Linked DNA regions of Homo sapiens. The protein of the gene in region 1 interacts with the protein of each later gene in a pairwise test. Each region holds a gene or a part of one and is shown in the gene's direction. Other genes may lie near its edges. The genes, in order: WFS1, PIAS1 and TRIM35.

Region 1 (3,654 bases):
GTTGCTGTTGAACCACCTCACCCGCATAGAGTTTGCTCATCTTGCTCTGGCGCTGCTTGTGACCGGAAGGCAAACAGTGGCTTTCTGGGCATCTTCCCTGTCTGTGTCTGTGTCTCTCTGTACTCCTGGCCTGGATTTGAAAGTGACAAGCAGCAGCAGATCTGAAGACCCTCATGCCTTGTCCCCTCCATCCTGACAAGTGACAAAGTCTGGCTTTGTGACATGTGTGTTTGTTTCTTCTGTGTTAAAGGGCCTACAAAGGGAGACATGGAAATCCCCTTTGAAGAAGTCCTGGAGAGGGCCAAGGCCGGGGACCCCAAGGCACAGACTGAGGTGAGGACTGCGGTGCCGGCAGGGACTTCGGGACGCGGCCCCCGGCACAACAGGCCTGGCCACGAGCTCCACAGCCCACAGAGAAGTGTCGGTGCCTGAGATCGGGGTCAGGAGCCAGCGTGGTGCACCCTACCCCACTTGAGCCCCATGTTGGTAGGGTGCCCATGTTCACTGTGCCAGTTTTCCTCCTGGCACTCCTCTGGGGAGCAGCGCTCATCCCCCTTTTGTCCAACTCACACCTCATCTTGGGCATCACCTCCTCCAGGATGACCTCCTGGCTTCCTGCAGCTGCCTGCTCAGTGCCACCCCTCAACATACACTGTGTATGCTGCCCACTCTTGTCTCCCTGACTGGCCTTTCACCTGGCTGTTAGCTGTGTGCACGGGGCCCTCAGAGCGGTGACCATTCACTTGGGCATCAGCCAAGGGCTGGGCTTTGTGCCAGTGCTGGGGACATGATGTGGCCCTCTCTTCATGGGTGACAGGTTAGTGGAAGAAGCAGACCCAAAAAACCCAAGTAGACAAGACACAGAAATACAGTGATTTTGAATTCTGGTGAGGGGAGAAGCCAGCAGAACGCTGAGACGGGAGGTGGCAGGGGGTCCTGTGTCCTCTGTGGAGGCAAGTTCTCACCACCTCACTCTGTCCCCTTGCACAGGGCTCAAGCAAGTGACCACAGTTATCCTGAGCAGTTTCCTGCCCCCTCTTCTCCCTAAAGAGGAGAAAAGCTTCCACGCGAAACCATAAATTAAGAATTTCTGGCTGGGAGCGGTGGCTCACGCCTGTAATCCCAGCACTTTGGGAGGCTGAGGCGGGTGGATCACCTGAGGTCAGGAGTTCGTGACCAGCCTGGCCAACATGATGAAACCGTGTCTCCACTACAAATAGAAAAATTAGCCAGACATGGTGGTGCATGCCTGTAATCCCAGCTACTTGGGAGGCTGAGACAGGAAAATCACTTGAACCCAGGAAGTGGAGGTTGCAGTGAGCCGAGATCGCACCACCACGCTCCCAACTGAGCAACAGAGCAAGACTCTGTCTCAAAAAAAAAAAAAAAAAAATTTCTTTCCTGACCTCACAGCCATATTGTACTTTAAAGTTCCTCCCACATCCTTTTGCCCAGGCATTTGGAGGCGGGGGGAGCATAGTAAGCCCTTTTATGGGCTCTCTGTGCCCTGGGCCTCACTTTTTCCATCTGTAGAATGAGAAGACTGGACCATTTCAGCAGGGATTCTTTTTGCAAAGGGCCAGATAGTGAATATTCTGGACTCTGCGCAATCTCTGCCGTGTTGCTCAGCTTTGCTGTGGAGCACGTAAAAGCAGCATGGACAACATGTAAATGAATGGTTATGGTTGTATTTCAATAAAACTTTATTTGCAAAAACAGGCAGTGGGCCAGTGCTAACCCTTGGTTAGCTGGCGTCTCTCCAGCCCTGGCTTTCTATGGTCCCCTGACTGTTTTGAGAGGTGTAAAGGACCCAGTCATGGTTCTGATTTCCATGCATTGATGGTGAGCCTTGGCAGGCAGGAGCAACTCAAGGAAGAGAACCTGTACCAGTACCAGTCGGAGCCCGTGTCTCCCTCGCCGTGTGGATGGGGTGGCCACACCTTCCTCACCGTGTTTTGAGGAGCGAGTGGCCGGAGGCTCAGTAGGGCCTAGCCTAGTGGACATGCCTGGTGTGACCCCATTTCTGCCCCTTCCTTCCTGGCCTGGGTGACAAAGGGAAGTGGGTGAAAGGAGGTGGGCTGGCAGGGAGCATGGGGTGGGAGAGGGTCGGAGAATCTGGAGGCTGACTGGTGTCTGGCTTGCAGGTGGGGAAGCACTACCTGCAGTTGGCCGGCGACACGGATGAAGAACTCAACAGCTGCACCGCTGTGGACTGGCTGGTCCTCGCCGCGAAGCAGGGCCGTCGCGAGGCTGTGAAGCTGCTTCGCCGGTGCTTGGCGGACAGAAGAGGTGGGTCTGTGTGAGGCTTAGAACAGCCTCTGGAGGGTTGAGCAGCTTGTAATGCTGCTTGCTAACTGAACAACTAAAATCTTACCAAACCTAACGCTGGTGATGCTGTTGGGAAATTTCAGTTTCTGTTTTGCTGGTGGCCTTCTCATTTTAGACACTGTTTCTGGACTTAACATGGGATATTTAACAGACCAAGCCATTTTCATTCTCTTTGGCTTGTGTTGGTATCTCCAAGTGGTAACTATACATCCTGCTTCCCTGCTGGGTTCTGATCCAAACTGAGACATCGATCCTGGGTTCAGCTGAGAGGCAGTTTCCCTGAGGCAAAGCTGGAGACTGTAATGTGGCCTGCAGTCAGAGTGGCCCATGCCCCTGAGCTGATGTCCGTCGAGTCTGGGCAGACCAGCTGAGGGGCTGTGGGCCCACACAGACCTGGACAAGCATGTTCACTTTGGGAGGAGGCAGGCTGACCCTTCATAGATAATCTCTTTCAAACAGAGAGGCAGGGGAGGAAAGGGACGCAGCTCAGGCCAGGGGTGGTGAGTTAGGACGTTGTCCTGCGCAAGGGAAGTGGCTGTCCCTGGTGCCGTGGGGCAGTGTGCTTCCTGAAGGTTCCACGCCTCAGGGAAAGATGAAAGTGGGTGTCACAAAGGTGTTTTTTCTAATGATACCTTTTTTTTCAGATTGTAAGAGTATTTTATGCTTATCATAGAAAACTTGGACTATGTAGAAAACATAAAGATACAAATTACTCATAACCTTGAAGCCCAGAAGCAACTCCCCATATTTTGGTGTATTTCCTTCTGTGTTTGTTGTTGTTGTTTTGAGATGGAGTCTCACTCTGTCGCCCAGGCTAGAGTGCAGGGGTGCGATCTCAAGTCACTGTAACCTCCACCTCCCTGGTTCAAGCAATTCTCCTGCCTCAGCCTTTTGAGTAGCTGAGATTACAGGCGTGCATTACCACACCTAGCTAATTTTTGTATTTTTAGCAGAGACAGGGTTTCATCAGGTTGGCCAGGCTGGTCACAAACTCCTGACCTCAGGGGATCCACCCTCCTTGGCCTCCCAAAGTGATGAGAGTACAGGCGTGAGCCACCATGCCCAGCTTGTATCATATTTTAAGAGTTACATTTATTATACAGAGTCTTCTCTTTGAAAATTAAACTGATGATTTTGAAAAACTAACAGTGGCATTGTTAGCCAGAATTTCTCACCAACCCAGCCTGCTGATTCCAGAGCAGTTGGAATGACCTGGAGGGGGCTCAGGCGGCCCACACGGCTCATTGTTGGGTGCCAGGGATAGCCCAGAGGCTGCTGGGGCAGAGCGTGCAAGGGAGGAGGCCGGTTGGCCCCGTGTTCCCCCAG
Region 2 (3,654 bases), on another chromosome or scaffold:
TCAGGCAATTCTCCTGCCTCAGCCTCCCGAGTAGCTGGGATTACAGGCATGCGCCACTGCGCCCAGCTAATTTTTGTATTTTTAGTAGAGACAGGGTTTCACCATGTTGGCCAGGTTGGTCTCTATCTCTTGACCTCGTAATCTGCCCGCCTTGGCCTCCCAAAGTTCTGGGATTGTAGGCGTGAGCCACCGTGCCTGGCCCAGGATCTGGTTTTAGAAAGATAACATAGGCAATGAAAGCATTTTTATTTTTAGAAAAAACCTTTATGAGTTAAACCAATTAATAAATGCATATGTGAATTAAGAATGCTATTTGTGCAACATCTGAAAAGTAGTGCATGTAGAAGGAACTTGAAATTGATCGTACTCTAAATTTGATTCGTTCGACTTTGGTCTTCACCTAAATCTGTATTTATGTAACGTTTTATCATTAGGATTTCTTTGAAATAGGCAGTAGAGACAATTTTAAAGTACTTAGTTGTCTTTAACCATCAATTTCAGAAGTAGTATTAATTGCCACTGCACTTTTTGCTAGATGTTTATGACTATATTTCCCCTTCCATGTTAAAAATTGTGCAACTCCTGTTACTTTTGATTCCCTCTACTCTTGGTTTCAGTAGTGTCACATGAAAAGAAAATTCCCTAGAACCCTTCCTTCAGAGTTTTCTGGTAAGTCTTCATTCTTAGCTATGAACTTCTAAAATTCGTCAAAATGAAGAAACCACCTTTTTATTTTTCAGCTTTTCTTTAGATCAAGCAAACAAAACAAACATAAATCCTTTGAATATTAACTAATGATGGAGATATCAGTAACTCTCATAGGACTGTTGTAAACGTTCCTATTTTTGAAAACTTAATCTCTTTTTTACCTTTTTTGCTATTCACTGCTTTCAGTTTACCCGCTTTGGTTGCCGGGTTAATTTCACCAAAACACTCCTTTCATTCTGTCACTCCTATCTATAAAAACTTTGAATGGCTTTCTATCGAAAACTGGATAAAGACTTAGTTCTCAGTCTAGTATTCAAGATTTTCTATTGTCTGGCCCCATTCCACTTTGTGTGTGTGTTTTGTCTCTTCAGCTGTATAGCAAAAGCCCTTAACTTAAAGCCAGAGCTGTTAGTTTGCGTCTTTTTGTTGGCTGGTGTTCTGTTTGTACACCCCCCATTCTCCCATCCCTACCCTGTGGACACAATAGGTGTTTTTAATATACATGTGTCAGATGAACAAATTATGTTTAAGATTTGTTTCTGTCAGAGACTGGGGCCTGATACTCTTGTCTATAAGACAATCTAAATTGAAAATATTTTTAGGGTCATATCTTCGCTCTTTTTTCTTGCTGCTGCTTAGATGAACTTGAATAACATTAAATCCAGAATAATTTATCAAGGGCTGTTTTAGATTTACCTTTTACATTATTTTAAGTTATAGAGATAATAAGTGACTACACTTCTCATTGTAATGATCTAACAGTAAATAGGGTAAAAATGGAAAGACCTCATCATCTTCATTCTTAGAGGGAATCATTTTGGTGTATATCTGTGTATTCTTATTTGGGTGGGCAGGGGGAGGTGACAGCTTTATTGAGATAAAATTAACATATCCCATTACAGTTCACCTCGTTAAAGTGCACAGTCAGGTAGTTTTTGGTATATTCACAAAGTTGTGTAACCATTAACCACAATCAGTTCTAGAATATTTTTTCACCTCGAAAAGCAACCCTACATCCTTTTAGCATCATCCCCTTCCCAAACCTTACCTCACTCTTAGCCCTAGGCGACTGATAATCTATTTTGAGTCTCTGTAGACTTGCCTATTTTGGGCATTTAATATAAATGGAATAAAAATATGTCACTTTTTGTGTCTGGTCTTGTATTCATTTTTTTCTCTGCATGGGCATTTAAATGTGTATGTCTGTATAATATTTTTAATTTATTGTGTGTGTGTATGTCTAGATGAGAACAAAACTAGGCACATAGAAGGAACTTAAGTGAATGTACATGTACATAAATATCTTTTCTAAAACTGTGAGACCATACCATATGTAGCATCCTACAGTTTGCTTTTTTTTACAATAGATAGTGAAGATCTTTCCATGACATGTCCAGACAATGAGATGGTCTCATTCTTTTTAACAGTGTGTAATATTTCCTATGTATGTTTATAGAGATTTACCTCTTGAATTTATCAGTGTATATGGTTAAAAGTTCTTAACAACTTGTTTTGATGGTTTTGCTATACACTACTGGTTTTTTTAAAAAAATAATTGCCACATTTAATGTAACCTCTGTAGTATTAATGCTGGAGTTTCACTTAACAATAGGAATGAAAACATCACAGGTAAGGGTTGTATAGCTTGAGGAGAAATGGAATGCAGGGTCTTTATGCAGTTCTGGCAGTGCTCAGCCAAAGCAATTCATTTTGTATTTGGGTTTCTGAATGTGAGCAAGCCTGTTTTTAAAAAAGCTCATGGCATAGTGCTTAAAATAGAACTTAACATGCTATCTTGTGCTTTATGGTGAATTTTAAGACTTTTTCTTGCAGTCATGCAAGTCTAATCTTAAAGATTGGAAAGATTTCAGAGTAAATATTTTTTCTCATATGTTAAAATCATCATTCTGGTCTATGGGCTTCTGTAAGTTACCCAAGAAGGGGACTGAAGAGGCACAGAACTGGCTCAGAAACTGGCTTATAGTAGATTCTCAGTAATTGTTATTTATTAAAGAATTATTTATCACATTCTGTTATTTATTATATTTTTGGGTATCTGCTGTGTATGAGGTACCAGGTTATTGGTGATTTTAATATATTATCACATATGTGTGTATATTTATTTAAATATTTCTGTTATAGCGGAATGTTTACTAAAAATTATCTTTTTAAAAATTATACAAGTAATGCATCAGTTCTTACAGAGGTTTTCAAAGTCTATTTCTCAGGCCTCTGGTGGTTCCCCGAAGTTTTTCTGAGGGTTCTCCAGGTCAAAATGATTTTCCTAATAATAGGCATTATTTACGTGCTGACATTTGCAAAATCAGTGGTGGGTAAAACTGCCAGCACCTTGGCACAAATTAAGGCATTGGTACTAAATTGTACTAGTAGTTGTGTTCTTCATCACTGTGCACTTGGAATTAAAAAAAAAAATGCCAGTTAAACTTTATGTCCTTGATGAAGCAATAAAACTTACTAATTTTATTGTATCTCAATCCTTGAGTACATTTAAAAATATATTTTGTATGATGAAATGAAAAGTACCTGTAAAACACTTTTATTGAATATCAAATCTGATGGTTAACTCAAGGAAAAGAACTTGTGCAGTTGAGTTGTGAGCTTTTTAAATGGAATACCATTTTTACTTGAAAAAATGGCTGGCAAAGTATGGTTATACAGACTAGGGTATTTGGCATACATTTTCATGAAAATAAACAAAGTGTGCCTGTCACTACAGGGAAAACAACTGACAATATTTGTTACTAATGATAAAATTTAAGCTTTCAAATGAAAATAGAACTTTGGAAGACATGTATTTGCCACTGTGAGCTTGACAGTTTCCCAATACTTGACTTTTTTGATAAGATCAGTGTGATATTAATGAATGTGTTATGTTGAAGTTGCATAGTGAAATATGTCAACATTTGGAAGAACTGCATAACTCAG
Region 3 (3,654 bases), on another chromosome or scaffold:
TCTGCTTTCATTTTTAAGGTGAGGAGCCTGATAGCCGAAGAGAGAAGGAACTTTTTACCAACTCACCAGTGGATAGTGACAAAGACAAGGCTCCAAACCAGCTCTCCTAACCTTCAGTCCAGGAGGCAAGGTATATAGCAGAAAAAACACAGGCATTCCATGTACTCATTGACTGGGCAGGTGGTTAACTGAACATCTACTTTGTGCAGGGACTTGGACATGCAGGGGACAAAACAAAGTCTCTCACCTTGCAGAGCAAGCATTCCTTCTGCAGAAGTGTACCGAGCACCACTATGCAAGGTAGAGAGGACCTGGAGGTTAAGACCTGCCCTCAGGAAAGAGAAGCTATTACCCTGGATAGTGAGTGCTGAGACAGAGGTGGCCAGGGTGCTGTGATGCCCTGGAATGGAACCTGAGCTGGCAAGATCGGGGGGCTTCCTGGAGGAAATGAGGGGTACTAGAGCCGAGTTTTCAAGGTGATGTTGGGTTAGTTGGGGGAAGCAGGTGGGAACCAGGCAGAGCAACAGTGTGTATCAAGTCTCACAAGACAGAAAACCTGGCTCAGGCCAGACAGAGCTGGTTTCACATGCAACTCTAGCACTTTGGTAAGTCCTTGCAAAGAGGCTATGAAGACCTTGTGCAATGAAATTCATTCTTTCCCTTGCCCCTACCTTCCTGCTTCCAGCTATACCACAGAGCACCTGTCCTGTTAATGAAAATTGTGGGTAACGTGATTTTGTAAAGTGCTTAAGATCTTCAATATGCAATTGAAATTTGTTGCTTAAGGAATCAACTTGTCATTTTTGGGAAATCATGTAGTCTATATGATCACATTCTGGATCCTTTAGTATGAATAAAAACCTATTTTGTGTGTGTTTATAACTAATCTTTAACGTAGGCTGGACGCGGTGGCTCATGCCTGTAATCCCAGCATTTTGGGATGCCGAGGCGGGCGGATCACCTGAGATCAGGAGTTCAAGACCAGCCTGGCCAACATGGTGAAACCCTGTCTCTACTAAAAATACAAAAATTAGTTGGGCATGGCGGCAGGCACTTGTAATCCTAGCTACTTGGGAGGCTGAGGCAAGAGAATTGCTTGAATCTGGGAGACAGAGGTTGCAGTGAGCCGAGATTGCGCCACTGCACTCTAGCCTGGACAAGAAGAATGAGACTCTATCTCAAAAAAGTAAAAAATATAAAATAAATAAATAAAAAATCTTAATGTTATAATGTGATGCTAACATCGAAGCTTGTTTGCTCTCCTGAGCTTGGGCTGGGGGATGCTCCAGATCTGTTGTGGGCCCCTGCTACTGCCCATCTCTGCTCATTCATGTGCTCCTTGGGCTACAGGCAGGCCCCTTGAGTGGTAGTTCTATTTGTAATCTAAGCATATTTAGGGTTAAAATTAATACCAAAAGCAAACAAAATAATATTGTTTAGATGCATTCAAATTCACACTTCTTACATGTCATATTTCCTAGGTGAACCACTAGATGCACAGAAGGGGAAAATGGAATAAAAAATGTGTAGTAAATTTTAAAAAAGGAAAGGAAGAAAAAGAAAAATAGAATAAGCAAGACAAATAGCTCAGAACAAGGTGGCAGATTTAAATGCAAACATATCGGTAATTATGTGTTAAATACTCCAGTTAAATGAAAATGTTGATCTGACTGGATAAGAAAACGAAACCTAATTCTGTGTTGCTTAATATAATTATCTCAGTGAGAAAACATTTGATAAAATTTACCATCTTTTTGTGTTTAAAAAAACAGGAAACTAGAAATGGAAGGAATTTCATTAGTTTGATTAAGTATATCTAGCAAAAAAACTTACAGCAAATATCACATTTAATGGCAAAACATTGAAAGCTTTCTTATTGAGATCAAGAAAAAGACAGGAATGCGCATTATGACCAACTCTATTCAGTTTTGTGTGGGATAGCCTTGTCAATGAAGTAAGCCAATAATTATAAATAAAAGATGTAAGGTTTGGAAAGAAGGGAAGCAAAACTGGCATGTGTAGATAATATGGTTGCATATTTTTGCACTGAGATTTCTATGTGTAGAAAATAAAGATTCTACAGTTAAATCATAAGTATTAATAAGTTTAGGTGAATGCTGAATCCAAAATCAAGATGCAAAACCAGTTGTATTTCTATGTATCACTAGCAAATAGAAAATAAAATATAGGCAGGGAGTTTTACACCTGTAATCCCAGCACTTTGGGAGGCTGAGGCAGGAGGATCGTTTGAGCCAAGGAGTTTCAGACCAGCTTGCACAACATAGTCCAGCCTGTCTCTACAAAAAGTTAAAACAAATTAGCCAGGTGTGGTGGTGCATGCTTGTAGTCCCAGCTACTTGGGAGGCTGAGGTGGTGGGAGGATCACTTGAGCACAGGAGGCTGCAGTGAGCTATGATTGTGCTACTACTGCACTGCAGCCTGGGTGACAGAGGGGGACCCTGTTTTGGGTTTTTTTAATTTAAAAATATGTTTACAATAATATAAAAAATAAGATAACTAGGAAGAAATTAATAAAAGATACGCAAAACTCTGATAGGGAAAAATATACTTCGTTGAGAGCTATCAAAGAACATTAAGTAACTGGTGTGATATATTATGTTCGTGGATTAGTAAAGTCAGTATTTAAGCCTTTCAGTTTTCCCCAAATTGATCTATAGAGACAATATTGTACTAATCTAAATCTCAACATGATTATTTTTATGCAACTTCACAGATTCTAAAATTTATATGACCCTCAAAGGGCCAAAAATTGCCAAGACATTCTTGAAGAGAAACCTATCAGAAATCCTCTCTTTTTTACAGCTATAGAAATTATGGCTGTGTGATGTTGGCACAAGGATAAACAGATGGGCCAGAGAAACAGATGGAGAGAACCAAAAAACAGATCTGTGTCTGATTTAAGACAGAGGTGGCTCTGCAGACCAGTGGGCAGTAATGGTCTTTTTAAATAATGGTGCTGAGACAATGAGCTACCTGGTCACACCATGTGCAAAAATAAACTCCAGGTATCCACATCAGACCTAAATGTGAAAGGAAAGCTATAAAGCTTTGAGAAAATACTACAGAGCTATACAATAATAATGCAAAGCTATAAAGCTTTGAGGAAATAATACGATTGTTTTTGTGATCTCAGTGTAGGGAGGTGTTTCTTAAAACTAGTATACTAATCCTAAAGGAAAAGACTAATAAATTTGGCCATATTTCAATTAAGAAAGATAAATGATGAAGTAGAAAATATTCATTACACCTCTAACTAATCAAGGACATACATTGTGTATATATAATAAATTCCCACAAACCAGTTAGGAAAATGGCAGGCAACGCAATGGAAAAATGGACAATACTTTACTGAGTACTTAAAAATAAACATTGAAGTGGTCAATAAACATTTTCTATTAACATTGCTCTTGCTGTAAAAATTGGTACCACTGCTTTGGAAAACAATTTGGCATTACGCAGTAAAGTGAAGACACATATGGTGGCCCAGCAGTTTTATCCCCAGGAATATATTATGAAGAAACGAGTTCCCATGTGTCCCCAGGAGACATGTACAAGAAGGTTACCTCCTCTGGGTCTAACTTGATCCTCTGTATAATGGGACTCACAGTGCTTAACCTTATAGGGAGAATTCGA

Evidence for each region.
Region 2: the proteins of WFS1 (region 1) and PIAS1 interact in binary tests that used the Homo sapiens proteins (3 or more experiments, as listed by UniProt).
Region 3: the proteins of WFS1 (region 1) and TRIM35 interact in binary tests that used the Homo sapiens proteins (3 or more experiments, as listed by UniProt).

The regions. Positions count from the first base shown.
Region 1 is NC_000004.12:6,286,843-6,290,496, forward strand, and holds part of WFS1 (wolframin), read left to right. Parts: intron 1-250; coding exon 251-333; intron 334-2,144; coding exon 2,145-2,289; intron 2,290-3,654. UniProt on the Homo sapiens protein: Participates in the regulation of cellular Ca(2+) homeostasis, at least partly, by modulating the filling state of the endoplasmic reticulum Ca(2+) store.
Region 2 is NC_000015.10:68,060,781-68,064,434, forward strand, and holds part of PIAS1 (E3 SUMO-protein ligase PIAS1), read left to right. Parts: intron 1-3,654. UniProt on the Homo sapiens protein: Functions as an E3-type small ubiquitin-like modifier (SUMO) ligase, stabilizing the interaction between UBE2I and the substrate, and as a SUMO-tethering factor. Catalyzes sumoylation of various proteins, such as CEBPB, MRE11, MTA1, PTK2 and PML.
Region 3 is NC_000008.11:27,301,237-27,304,890, reverse strand, and holds part of TRIM35 (E3 ubiquitin-protein ligase TRIM35), read left to right. Parts: intron 1-47; exon of another isoform or gene 48-130; intron 131-3,654. UniProt on the Homo sapiens protein: E3 ubiquitin-protein ligase that participates in multiple biological processes including cell death, glucose metabolism, and in particular, the innate immune response.